Homo sapiens: one gene and its partners. The protein of the gene in region 1 interacts with the protein of each later gene in a pairwise test. Each region holds a gene or a part of one and is shown on either strand. Other genes may lie near its edges.

The links. Proteins that work in one complex are often made in the same cells at the same time.
Region 2: the proteins of BPIFA1 (region 1) and TCF7L2 interact in binary tests that used the Homo sapiens proteins (3 or more experiments, as listed by UniProt).
Region 3: the proteins of BPIFA1 (region 1) and HNF1B interact in binary tests that used the Homo sapiens proteins (3 or more experiments, as listed by UniProt).
Region 4: the proteins of BPIFA1 (region 1) and KRT3 interact in binary tests that used the Homo sapiens proteins (3 or more experiments, as listed by UniProt).

Annotation. Positions count from the first base shown.
Region 1 is NC_000020.11:33,241,401-33,243,806, forward strand, and holds the end of BPIFA1 (BPI fold-containing family A member 1 precursor), read left to right. Parts: coding exon 1-69; intron 70-655; coding exon 656-719; intron 720-1,086; coding exon 1,087-1,127; 3' UTR 1,128-1,161; exon of another isoform or gene 1,162-1,269; intron 1,270-1,684; exon of another isoform or gene 1,685-1,706; 3' UTR 1,707-1,906; downstream 1,907-2,406.
Region 2 is NC_000010.11:113,145,747-113,149,246, reverse strand, and holds part of TCF7L2 (transcription factor 7-like 2), read right to left. Parts: intron 3,237-3,500; coding exon 3,150-3,236; intron 1-3,149. UniProt on the Homo sapiens protein: Participates in the Wnt signaling pathway and modulates MYC expression by binding to its promoter in a sequence-specific manner. Acts as a repressor in the absence of CTNNB1, and as activator in its presence.
Region 3 is NC_000017.11:37,738,560-37,742,059, forward strand, and holds part of HNF1B (hepatocyte nuclear factor 1-beta), read right to left. Parts: intron 1,081-3,500; coding exon 881-1,080; intron 1-880. UniProt on the Homo sapiens protein: Transcription factor that binds to the inverted palindrome 5'-GTTAATNATTAAC-3'. Binds to the FPC element in the cAMP regulatory unit of the PLAU gene. Transcriptional activity is increased by coactivator PCBD1.
Region 4 is NC_000012.12:52,793,318-52,797,317, reverse strand, and holds the start of KRT3 (keratin, type II cytoskeletal 3), read left to right. Parts: upstream 1-1,200; 5' UTR 1,201-1,275; coding exon 1,276-1,920; intron 1,921-2,986; coding exon 2,987-3,207; intron 3,208-4,000.

The sequences.
Region 1 (2,406 bases):
ATTCAAGGTCTTCTGGACAGCCTCACAGGGATCTTGAATAAAGTCCTGCCTGAGTTGGTTCAGGGCAACGTAAGTAGGCAAGGTGGGGATCCCCTGATCCTCAGGTTTTAGAGCTTCTTGCACTAAAACAAAGCCCTGAGCTAAGTGGGTCCGAGTCCCTCAATTTGATAAGTAACTTCCATTCATCAATCTATTTGTCCATTGATCCATCTGTCCATGTTTCTTCTTTACATCTTTCCAAATGCATTGATGAGTCTCTGCTCTAGGCCAGGCCCTGCTTGTCCACACTGAAGCTGAAATGGATTGGCCCCTGTTCTGAGAAATTGGAGAAGTTCCCTGTCCAGCCTTCTATGGCCACAGACAGTCTTTCAACCTATGCTTGGGTGTCTCCTATAACCAGGGCACTCCACTCCACTTAGAATCAGATGTGATGTCACAGGGTGAACACTGGGCTTGTTGTGTGATTTGGGGCCCTTCACAACATCCCTCATGCCTCCAGTTTCTCCTCAGGCATGTGTGACCATTGATCTGTGGGATTGCTTAGAATCACTTTCACACAGAAAAATGACAGGAAATTTCCCCAGAGAACCCCCACTAGGGATTCTGCTGCTCCAGGGTGCCACTCTGCCTAACTCTCCTCTCTGCCCCTGGCCAGGTGTGCCCTCTGGTCAATGAGGTTCTCAGAGGCTTGGACATCACCCTGGTGCATGACATTGTTAGTAAGTACCTGCTTTCAAGCCCTCTGTCCCTCTCTGCAGGAGCAGCAACTTCCCCCAAGGAGTTTTTTCCCTGCACACCCTAGGATACTAGGTCCCTCTGGCCTCAACTCTCTCTATTTTGGGCTTCATTTTCCCCCGAATAATCCAGATAATTTTGAGATAGACACCGTGTCTCCTGCCTCAGCCCTGACACTGAGGACAGCTGGGCTGGTTGGTAGAAGGAGGCCTGGCTTCCTCCAAGCATGCTGAACACAGTCGGATCTCCAGAGGCCTCCATTCCCTGGCCCCCCACCTTGAGGAATATGGACTCCTTCACGTTGAGATCATAACTGTCGTCTGTTTTTTTATTGCTTGTTTGTTTGTTTAGACATGCTGATCCACGGACTACAGTTTGTCATCAAGGTCTAAGCCTTCCAGGAAGGGGCTGGCCTCTGCTGAGCTGGTAAGTGCCCTTCCCCACACCCCAGGGTTTTGGGGGCTGGCTGTTCTTCTCCTGGTAGAAGGCAGACGGGAGCTTGGGACAATGACATCCAAAGAAAGAGACAAACATCTACAGAGGTACACACAGGGATGCACAGAGAAATCCACAGAAAAGCTGACAGAGGTGGAAGGATGCAGGCAGCACAGCAACACAGCTACCAAGAGAAACACACACACAAATGCCCAGACACATGGCCACTGATACAGATGCACACACTCTCACACCAGCACACTCACACACATGCACACATTGGTGGACTCACCACACACAGACACACACACTCTCACCCAGCACCCTCACACATATGCACACATCAGTGGACTCACCACACATAAGTACACGTGGATACACAGACACACTCACTCAAACACATGCTCACAGAGCCCTGACTCCAGGCCTGATGGCTTGCCCAGGGTCTCAGCCTCCTCCTGTCCCTCTGGGGCATGAGTTTGATGATGAGTCAATATCAGTAACGCTCACTGACCTTGAGTCTCCATCCTGATTAGGGTCTTCCCCCAACAGAACTATTTCTTGCTGCTCAATCCATTTCCTCTGGCCCAGCTTCCCAGTGCTCACAGATGGCTGGCCCATGTGCTGGAAGATGACACAGTTGCCTTCTCTCCGAGGAACCTGCCCCCTCTCCTTTCCCACCAGGCGTGTGTAACATCCCATGTGCCTCACCTAATAAAATGGCTCTTCTTCTGCATCAGGGGCCTTGTCATCCTTCACCATTACTTGAGGGCTCCTGGGTTGGAAACAGCCCTGGCCTGGGTGGTTGGGCCCATAGCATAGAGTTTGGCACTTACTTTGTAGATCTGAATAGTCTTGAGCAGGTCAGGGAGATGTTCAAGTGTGTGTGGATTTCAGAAGGCTTTCCCAGGTGTCCTTAGAAAGGGGGAATAAGGCATTCAGGGTAGATATAATACTCCAGGTACAGTTAATGACATACAAGTTTGCCGCACCACGAATGAAAATGGCAGATTTGTGTTAGGGAAATGCAAATTAGAACTACAATGAAGGCCAGGTGCCGTGACTCCCGTCTGTAATCCCAGCACTTTGGAAGGCCAAGACAGGCAGATCAGTTAAGGGCAGAAGTTCAAGACCAGCCTGACTGACATGGCAAAACCCTATCTCTACCAAAAATACAAAAATTAGCCAGGGGTGGTGGTGTGTGCCTGTGGTCCCAGCTACTCGAGAGGCTGAGGT
Region 2 (3,500 bases), on another chromosome or scaffold:
TGTGAAAAACAAAAAAAGCAAAACCCCTTGGGAGACACTTGGGCTCCAAGTGACACCCTGTTCCTTCCCACTGCTCGAAGGCCTCAGAGGAAACAGAAGTTAAGAACATGTGTTCTTGGAAGCCCTTGGGTGAAGTGGTGGGTGGCAGCTTTTACTGTGAATTTTGAAGGCCTGACATTCCTCAAATACATATGTTCCCTTCCTGCAGAATGAGAATATGTGTACAGACGTGAGAGGGAGAGGGAGGGGGAGAGAGAAAAACACTGCATGTGTGAGTGTGTGTGTGTACGTGTGTGTACATACACCAAATACCACGGGAAGGCACCACAATCTGAGTACATTTTGGGGTGCAGACAAACTTCTAATGCAGCCATGAAGAAGGCACATTTCTAAGTTCCCATACCTACGCGTATATTCCCATATCTGAAAAATGTTCAGCAAAGAAAGAGACCATGTGTGAACATGGATGTGGGCTGTATACACATACCTTCGCTTAAGAAATTCCTTTCTGCAGACTACTATTTCATGAAATGCAATAAACACCCTAAAAATTCTAAGCAGCTCATTATATACCCCCGTCTGCTTTCATGGCTCCAAGCCAGAATATAATGATGAACCTTAACTTGTTAAGAACAACTAATTTTTGTTTCTGGCTGTCTCAGGGGCTTCTCTCTTACTCACTCTCACTTTACTTCACTGTTGACACGTTTCTGTTAACCGGATGTCATCTGCCGGCCTTGATTTTATGCACAAGCAGTAGGATGCATTTTCCTGTGCAACAATCCTGCTTTGAGTTGCATTAGGTTTGTCATTATTCTCTCATTTTCCCCCTTGCACTTGTAACATTTCATCTCTTCCTGCCTTATTTTTTGTGAGCCACGGTGCACCCACATTATGGTTTATACATGATCTCGCTCCCTTTGAAGCCGGCAGATTTCAGAGCCGGCTCTCGTCAGGAGAAGAGCCTTGCACCAATTTAGCAGGCTGAGGGCCCGGAGCTCCAACATCTCAATCTAAAGGGGGTCACAGGGTGGCACAAGTGAGTGTCAGCAAGAGCTGTTTAATTGCCAATCTAGGCTTCTCCATGGTGTTTAAAGTATAATGACCCATCACTTAATTCTGAGAAGTCCTGGCCCCACTGCTGAATAGAATGAATATCAAAGGGTGTTCTGGAACAGGGCAAGCTGCCTACATTTGCTATAACTGCCATAAGTATAATAGACCTATACTTCTGTCGCCCCATTATCACAATAATGTATTTAATTTGCTGTATATGCTTTTTAACTAGCTATCTTTCATTTGGCCTACCTGGGGAGTCGGCCGCCTCTCCCCGCACCTTGAGGCCCTAACCTTTCTTCCTGACGTTCCCTGCCTTTCCTCCACCCCCATGCCCACCTATAATTCATCGACTAACCTCCTAATGATAATTCAATCGATCAGCTTAACCCCAATCCCTATCCTACAATTACTTTACCACTGTTAACCTCCAGAACGCACCAAATAAACAAACATGAAAAATAACCAGGTGTAATATACAAATGCTGGGAAGGTGGGAAGATGAGCTGTGGAGTATAAGCTGCTACACTAATAGAATGACATGTAGCCGTGGTCCCTGGGTGCTCTCCACCTGGGAGACCCCCTACTCATTCCCATGCTTTGCGAGGCTGTGATGACACTATTTAATAAGTGTTACGCCTCCTCTTCTCTCTAGGCCAGAGAACACACGAGCGTTTTCCTACCTAACTAATACTGGCATGGATTTTGAAATTTTGATGATATATCGCAGGTAGAAAATGGATCTCTTCAACTATGATATCCACGGCATAGTTACCGATGCTAGATATGCCACGGTTTGTTTTTCTTAATGAATGTAACTCTCTATCACTGCTAAAGTTACTGTTTTGTAAGTAGGAAAAGCAGCATCTTGACCTGTCTTTCCAGGCCCTTCTCTGGTCTTGGCTTCCCATGTTGGCCACAGGGACTGGGGAAAGAAGCTGGGGACAGCACCCCTGCCATGTAACGCATGCTAATTTCATTATGTGCCATCATCAGAATGGGTTGGTGATTTCAGACCATCAGCAAAGTCTAAACCTCCACCGATTTAATTAACTTGACTGAAAATCAGATGAACAGAAAATAAAACTATCATTAGAAACAATTAGCGACTAAAACATACTGCTGCCAACCAGTTTGTAAATAAACTAGCAGTCACTGAAAAATTAGCCAGAATTAATCAGAGGGAGGAAAAGAAGAACATGGGGATAGGAATGTATCTTGTAAATATGTTTCTACGCTGAAATATAAATATATATGAATGTACAGCACACACACACATGTTTTTTTTTAACTTTCAAAGACTTAGAGCTGCACAGACCACTATGATATGCACCAGCCACGTGTGGCTATTGAATATTTGAAATGTGGCCAGTCTAAACTGAGAAGTGCTGTGCGTATAAGATACACATCAGATTTTGTACCAAAGCTCAGCACAAAAAAGAACATAACATCTTATTAATAGTTGTTGTCCAGGAATAGCATGTTAAAATGATAATATTTTGGCTATATTGCATTGAATAAAAACATGTCATTAAAAATAACTTTATCTTTTTTTTAAAAAAAAAAAAACAAAAACTTTTTTAAAAACACGGCTACTACGAAATTTAAAATTCCCTCTGTGGCTCACACTATATTTCTATTGGACAGTGCTACCTTCGAGGGGAGGAGGCGGATGCTTTCTTGTTGACTTGCAATCAGAGTCTGAGCTTTGAGAACACCAGTAATCTTTTTTCGAACTCTTCTTGGTATAATAATAAAACTACCTTCACCGCTACCTTTCTTGCTGAGGACAGGACAACAGAGAAATGGCATTTTTAAAAGCTTCTGTCCTGTTTCTCCCTTACCTTCTTAATTCATTAAAATACATTGTTCAACTGAGTGACTCAAAAATTTTACCCAGAAAGACATCATTTACCTTGGAATTTCAGGGCAATTTTTCAGGATTTTCTGGGAGTACAGCCTAATGCCACATTGGCTTTACACTAATAGAACTACATGTAGCTGTGGTCCCTGGGTGGCTTGGTGGCCATCTAGAGAACTTCTTGAGAAGTCACACATGGCCTTGGATGAAGGCCCCGGTTCTTGGAACTCACCTGGACATGGAAGCATTGACGGTCAGAGCTGTGGGGTAGGGGTGTCTGAATCCTCCTGTCGTGATTGGGTACACTGGTTGACCTTGCCTACAAAGAAGGGGTACAAAGTAAGAGACTTGAAACAAGGGTGGGGGTGGGGACAAGAAAAAGAAGAAAAGGGAAAAGTTCTCTCTGCACAGTAAGCTTTATTCTCATTTGATCAGAACAAAAATCTTGGGGATTGTACAGGAAGGATCAAAGGGAAGAAACACAGAACAATTTGAATGCCATAAATCTGATAGGAATGGCTAATTAAATTTTATAACCTCTGCTTATGTCAATAGAGACCCTCTCCCCAAGCTGAAACTAGGT
Region 3 (3,500 bases), on another chromosome or scaffold:
GGAAAAGGATTGGATCAAAGTAATGAAAGTGTAATGTCAAAGAATACTTTCCTAAAATACAGACAGTATGTCATTCCTACTCTTGTTATTCATAGGCAGTTCAAACTTCTCTAGACGTACTTCAAAACAAAAACCTTTTAGAATTATTGGGTGGGAGAAATCTTGGGACAGAAAAAAAACTTTGGGATGGGAATGGGGATGACAAGAATTGATGGGTCAGAGTTCCAAATGCAGATGCTTTTCCTGTGCCCTGCCTTAGCCAGAAATAGCTTCTTCATGAGCAGGGCCACCAGCTGAGGTCCCCACACTCTACCAGTGTTGGTAAATGTGGGTAAACACCTTAAATTGCCTCAGGATTCAATCCCTCCCACTATCCTCCAAGAACAGGGTGAAGTTCTGAATATATCTCTCTATACAAATGCATTCTATTGTTGATACTTTTTCCAGAGAGGAGGAAATTAACAGTAATAGTAATCAATATTATTGACTGCAACGAAATGTCTTCTTTGGAAATTGACTGATGGTCACGTATCAAGGGGAGATGCTGGGTTTTCTCTCAGGGAAGACATTTCACTCTGTCACCTACTTGGTTTCAAAGAGAAGGAGGTGGAAGGAGGGGCCAAAAAGTTTAAGGTATGCTGCATACACTGACAGGCTCCTCAGAGCAACTGGCTGGGTAGCAAGGGGGCTGTGACTGAAGAACATGACAGAAGCCAATCCATTGTACAGCAACCACCAAGGCCAAATCTACTTGCCACCTTCCTCATATCTGCCAAGTGCTCACAAGGCCTTGTCGATGAAAGGGAAACTGAGGCAGCCAATGGGGTGAGAGGGCAAAGGTCACTTCAGGTTGAGGCAGAGGCAGGATGAAAACACTTACGTCGGAGGATCTCTCGTTGCTTTCTGACGTACCAGGTGTACAGAGCGGCACGCTTCTGGGTCTTCATAGGGGTGCCCTTGTTGAGATGCTGGGAGAGGTGCGACTGGTTCAGGCCGGTGACATCGACCACCTCCCTCTGGGGGATGTTGTGTTGCTGCATGTAACCCTTGATCATTTTAGCAGCCCTCCAAGGGTCCTCACTAGACAGACAAGCAGATGGTTAGGGTACTAGTGGGAGACATCTGGGGAGAAACATTCTTTTTCTAGGGGGTGCTACCTATGGTCTATGCAAAATTCTGAATTTTCCCCCCATCTAAGCTACAACTTTGGGGTAGACATGAGGCCAAAATGGAAGCTAAACAGAGGAGAAGGTGACTGCCCCTGTACGGTACACCTCATCCCTTTCTTCTGAGGTTAGTGGGCAAAAGAGGACTTCCCATCTTCAGGAATAAAAAAGCACCACCACCACTCTCTCTTATTAAGCAAAAAGAAAAGCTCTTGTTTTATTTAATTAATTAATTAATTTATTTATTATTATTTTTTTTGATGTGGAGTTTTGCTCTTGTCACCCAGGCTGGAGTGCAACGGCATCTTGGCTCACTGCAACCTCCACCAGGATCCTGGGTTCAAGCGATTCTCCTGCCTCAGCCTCCAGAGTAACTGGGATTATAGATGCCCAGCACCACACCCAGCTAAATTTTTTATTTTTAGTAGAGATGGGGTTTCACCATGTTGGCCAGGCTGGGCTCACACTCCTGACCTTAGGTGATCCATCTGCCTCGGCCTCCCAAAGTGCTGGGATTACAGACGTGAGCCACCGCGCCTGGCCATTTTATTTTGCTTTCCTCCATTTTCCTGCAATGTGGGAGATTTAAAAGGCAGGAGGCCCACTGGAAAGTGGGGATGCCTTTAGCTTGGGGCTGGACTCCCTGATCCTACAATGAAGTAGGGATAGCATCAGTTTCTGAATTTGCCCAATTTTAGCTTCAACCTCTCCTACATTATTTTCCTTTTGAATGGGTATCTCCATTTCTTATAAAACAGGGGTGAAATGTATGTGTTCACCTTCTAAGAAGCAAGGAGGATGTCTTAGCCAAATAGTAAATAATTTTCAGAGTTTTAGAAAAGTTTTCCAAAATACAATGTTGTATCTCCTTGGGACGGGAGGATCACACCACTGAGGTGAGGCAAGTAGTTAAAAAAAAAAAAAATCCACAGCTCCACCTTCCAGACAAAATCTACTGGGCTAATGGGGACAAATAACTTCAATTTCGGACATTAACAATTTTAGATGCTTGTTTTCCTGTATTATGTTTCTCATAAATTTTAAATACTGGATAAGAACATGGTTATACTTTTCATTTCTCATAAACACAGGTGTGTAAACTGCTAGTTTTAGCACCTTTGAATTTTATTTGTCTAGAATGGTTTCAACTTTGCCAATATCTTTTCTTGCTTATTGAACAGATGCTTTGAAAAGAGAGATATAATTTAAAACTAGAAATTAAAATAGTGTGCAGCACAGAACAAAAGTACTAAAGAAGCAATATATACATGTTTACTATTTATTTAATGCAGGTACATATTTAACTTACAAAAACCAGCACCCCATTACTGTATGTTGATATATATATTAGCTTGATAGAACAAGAAAAAAAACGGAAGGGAAAACTAGTTTCAGGTGAAACAAAAAAGAAAACGGTGTAGAGGCTGAAATAGATACAGCATTGCAACATAATAAGCAATTTTATTTCTAAATGGCGCCTTTAAATATGTCAAATAAAATTAATTCTGTTTAATGAATAAAAATCCAGTAATCGAACATATTTTATAAGCATTTGGGTAGTTGTGATTATTTTATTAAGACTTTGATATTAAACTCGTGAGAACACAGGCTTTGATAGAGATGTTTTTGAGAAATGCAAACTTTTTATATTAATTATATATAAGAACGAATTTCTCAAGTATTTACAAAGGTAATTTCCAAGTACACAATATGAGGAAGTAACAAGAAGAACAAAAAATGAGAAAACGAGTTACAGTTTCAAACGTGGAGAATTCACATTAAGAGGAAAATAATGTAATAAACGTTTTAGACATATCCTTGTAAACATCACAGATCATTTAAAAGTTTATTTCTGGTCAATATTTCCACCGATATTTTTAGGATGGAAAAATACTTTCAACGGCTACGAACAAGACTCCTCGAACCTTAGGGGAAAAATTGCATTTTAAAAGTGAATATTGCTTTAGCAAATTCTTCGGCTATTTTTCTTTTGTTTAAATGCCTTTACCTGTGTTCATTTTGTATGCCTAAGAAACCTAGAAAAATAGGGTACTGTTCTAAGTGGGAATGATTCTGTGGAAACAGTGAATTAGCCCAACAATTGGGGAGGGTTTAAAAAAAGCCCCCAAGAACCTTATAAATAATGGCAAAACCTTTTAAGTCCGACTTAAAAGAGTGAGGAGTAAGATGGCGCAGTTATACCTTCACAACCCTCTGACCCCAAAATTCACGTGTGTTCACCGGGAAGAGCCGGGAGAGCTGGTTATTTTTGTTTGTTTGTTTGAAAACACAGCTCAGGTTCAGAGGTTCCCTAACACCGAGAAAGGCACCGGT
Region 4 (4,000 bases), on another chromosome or scaffold:
GGAGAGATAAGCAGCTAACTTGGCCAGCTCCAGAGTGTGCAGGATGGCTTTCTTTTGGACAAACCAAGCCCAGTCATAAGCCTCTGAACAACCCCAGACAGGGAGAGTTTCAGGCTTTCGGAGTCAGACATATTCCATAGTGCTGCCGGCTCTGCCAGATCTGGCTTTCTGGGGTTTGTGAGGGGGCATGGGCGACTCTCAGGAGCACATCTCTCAAACAGAAAATGGTCCCACAGGGGCCCTGTGTGTCTTGTCCATGACTGGGTCTCCAGAGTTTTGCAAAGGGCCTGGCACACATTTGGCAGTCTGTAAATATTTGCTGAATTTGTTGTTGACTTGACATTTGAATTTCTTGTTCCCTAGGCCTTAAGCTAAAACCAGAGAAAGGCCAAAATGTGGGGAGCAAGAAAGGAAGCCATAGATAAACCCCAAGATGTGTAATAGTGTATAATTTCTCTGGGAAGTTTTAAAGAGAAACAAACATTAGGCATGTTGGATTTTGCCAGTGTCTGCTCAACATACATAGGTGTTAACTTGACTTTTTCTCCAAAGATAGTCATAAACCAAAAGGTCACTACCTCCTGAACTAAAGCTTGGGGTACAGGGAGAACCCAGGAGGCAGATTTGTGATAGTTCTGGGCTTTTTTCCAAGAAGGGAGAAGGAGAGGTCAGCGCTTCATCCCAAAGGCCAGCGTAGAGCTGGGCACATACTGTGCACTCAGTCATTGTGGAGAGACCTGCATCACTCCTTCCATTAAGATACTTTCCCAGAGCTGTGAGTGGGCTCCACTGTCTCCACTACTCAGAGAAGCAGAACCTCCCCACACCTCCTCCACTCTATCCTCTCCAGAGCTGGGCACCGCTCTGCAGGGCCCAGGTGCAGCTAATAGGCAGAGGGATGGCTGCTGAGCACCTGATGCAGGTGAGCGTGCCTCCTGGGTCCTGTCAGACAGAGCTAGGAGGAGGCCATGCCCAAACATGGGGCAACACCAGGCACCACCCCCTCACCAGGTAAGCCTGCCACCTTAGCACTTTTACCATTTCAGCTTATTTTCAAGGTGTGTTTGGTAGCCTGGAACAAACTTATTGCCTTGGAGGCAAACCCAGCCCATGAATATTTGGGATTAATTATCTCTCCTTCGTTTGAGCCCAACAACCTCCTCAAATGTATATAAAGGGATTTATTTTGCACAGGTCTTCATTTCCCATCCCTCTTCCTCTGACTCTCAGTGTCCCTGCTTAACTTACACTCTTCTCTTCGCCAAGCTCCTTACCATGAGCAGACAAGCCAGCAAGACATCTGGTGGCGGGAGCCAGGGTTTCTCCGGCCGCTCTGCTGTGGTCTCCGGCAGCAGCAGGATGAGCTGTGTGGCCCACTCTGGGGGAGCTGGCGGAGGGGCCTATGGCTTCCGGAGCGGAGCAGGTGGCTTTGGCAGTCGCAGCCTCTACAACCTGGGCGGCAACAAGAGCATCTCCATCAGCGTGGCAGCTGGCGGCTCCCGGGCTGGAGGCTTTGGGGGAGGGCGGAGCAGCTGTGCCTTTGCAGGTGGCTATGGAGGTGGCTTTGGGAGCGGCTATGGAGGTGGCTTTGGTGGTGGCTTTGGTGGTGGCAGAGGAATGGGAGGTGGCTTTGGTGGAGCTGGTGGCTTTGGAGGGGCTGGTGGCTTTGGAGGGGCTGGTGGCTTTGGTGGTCCTGGTGGCTTTGGTGGGTCTGGTGGCTTTGGTGGGCCTGGCAGCTTGGGCAGTCCTGGTGGCTTTGGCCCTGGGGGCTTTCCTGGGGGAATTCAGGAAGTGACTATCAACCAGAGTCTCCTGCAGCCCCTCAATGTGGAGATCGACCCCCAGATTGGGCAAGTAAAGGCCCAGGAGCGGGAACAGATCAAGACCCTCAACAACAAGTTTGCCTCCTTCATTGACAAGGTAATGAAGCTTTGACTGGTCATCCCTTCCTGGGCTGGGGACTTTGAATTTGACCTTTGGGACACAGTGTTTAAATGTTTCTTGGATAGGCCAGACTGGAGGGTGAGGAGTTAGGTGGAACTCTAGGGTCTGGGAAGATATCCAGGGTTGAGGAGTTTGTCTACATGGTCAAGTGAGGGGAGGTGTAGAAAGAAAACAGTCCCCTATTTGGACCTGAGCACCACACATCCTGTTTGTGGGAACCCCTGCTGAAGTTTCCAGTCATTGCCTCATTGAGGCCCAGGCTGGCAGGGCAGGCAGCCCAAGGCAAGGGCCACAGCCACCATCAGCGAAGGGTCCACCAAGAATGGGAGGCTTTTCAAATACAAGCTGCCCTCTGAGGCTTTCCAGGAAGCCCTTTCCCCCTCATATTGCTGTGCCAGGCAGAGGAGGCTGATTACCTGGAGCAGGGATTAAGAGCATAAGAACCTTAGTTAGTCCCAAGGGAGCGCAGAGAAATGAGTGACTTTGCACTCCTACTCAGCCTAGTCAGGAAGACAAGAGTGCTCGGTGAGCTTCTCCAGACCAGGACAGTTCTCATGGGGCTGCCTCCCCTCCAGGCCCAAGAGAGGTGTTGTCATGCTAACTGTGGCATGCCAGCCAGTGTTGCTTCCCAGCTTCCCAGCATCACTTCACTGTTTTTGAAGAGCTAGCATGTCAGTAGAGTCGTGGGTGGAAATGGTGCTGCTGAGGTTTATGTGCATTTTTGTAGAGTGTACTGTGGTTTTGGAAGTTAAGATAGGGTCATGAAGTTCCCAGGAACAACAAGCAATAATTCTATTGCTTTCAGGTAGGAGCTACTTCCCCTTCCTTTGTAACTTTCCAAACCACGCTGCAAGTGTAGTGTCCTGACTCATCACCCATCTGATCATAATCTCTCTGACTACAGTAGGAGCCTATCTTTGCATCTTTTCTAGGCCTTTGTGCTGGGGGCCCAGGAGATAGACACCTAGTCCTACCTGAGTGAAGGCCCCTCTGCTCCTCTGCTACAAGTGTTGCCTGATGTTGCTTCCTGCAACCATTGCAGGTGCGGTTCCTGGAGCAACAGAACAAAGTCCTGGAGACCAAGTGGAACCTGCTCCAGCAGCAGGGCACAAGTTCCATCTCAGGCACAAACAACCTTGAGCCTCTTTTTGAGAATCACATCAACTACCTGCGGAGCTACCTGGACAACATCCTCGGGGAGAGAGGGCGCCTGGACTCTGAGCTGAAGAACATGGAGGACCTGGTGGAAGACTTCAAGAAGAAGTGAGTGACAGGGCAGGAGTGGGAAGATGCCATGGCCCACCCTGTCTCAGAGTCTTGGCCCCTTCTACATGCCCCCTGACTGCTGGGCAGTGGCGTCTCCTGGCCCATTTCCCTCTCCTTACCTTCATGAAGGACAGCTTGGTTCATTCAGTTCCCCCTCACCTTCCTTCTCCAAGCATGGTGCTTTGCAAATAAAATTGTGGCAAGAGGATGAGTTTAGGCTGGGCTTGGTGGCTCATGCCTGTAATCCCAGCACTTTGGGAGGCCGAGGTGGACAGATCATTTGAGGTCAGGAGTTCAAGACCAGCCTGGCCAACATGGCGAAATATCATCTCTACTAAAAATACAAAAATTAGCTGGGTGTGGTGGCACACACCTGTAATCCAAGATAGTCGGGTGGCTGAGGAAACAGAATTTCTTGAACCCTGGAAATGGAGGTTGCAGTGAGTCAAGATTGTACCACTGCACTCCAGCCTCGGTGACAGAGCGAGACTATGTCTAAAAAAAAAACAAAAACAAAAAACGGATGAGTTTAGAGTTGGGGAAGCATTTCCTCATGAGCCAGGTTGGGGAAGATCCTGGTTCTGGCATGTGAAAGATTCTGGGACAACTCATGGTATGGTGATCAACCATCCAGAGGTTTGCCTGGGACTGAGGGGTTTCCTGGGATGCAGAAATTTTAGTGCTAAAACCAGACAGTTTGCCTGGGCAAATTGACTTGGTTGGTCCCCCAACTAACAGGGAGATAGTAAAGAGGATGTGCTCATCTGAGAGGGGCAGGATAGGGATGGAG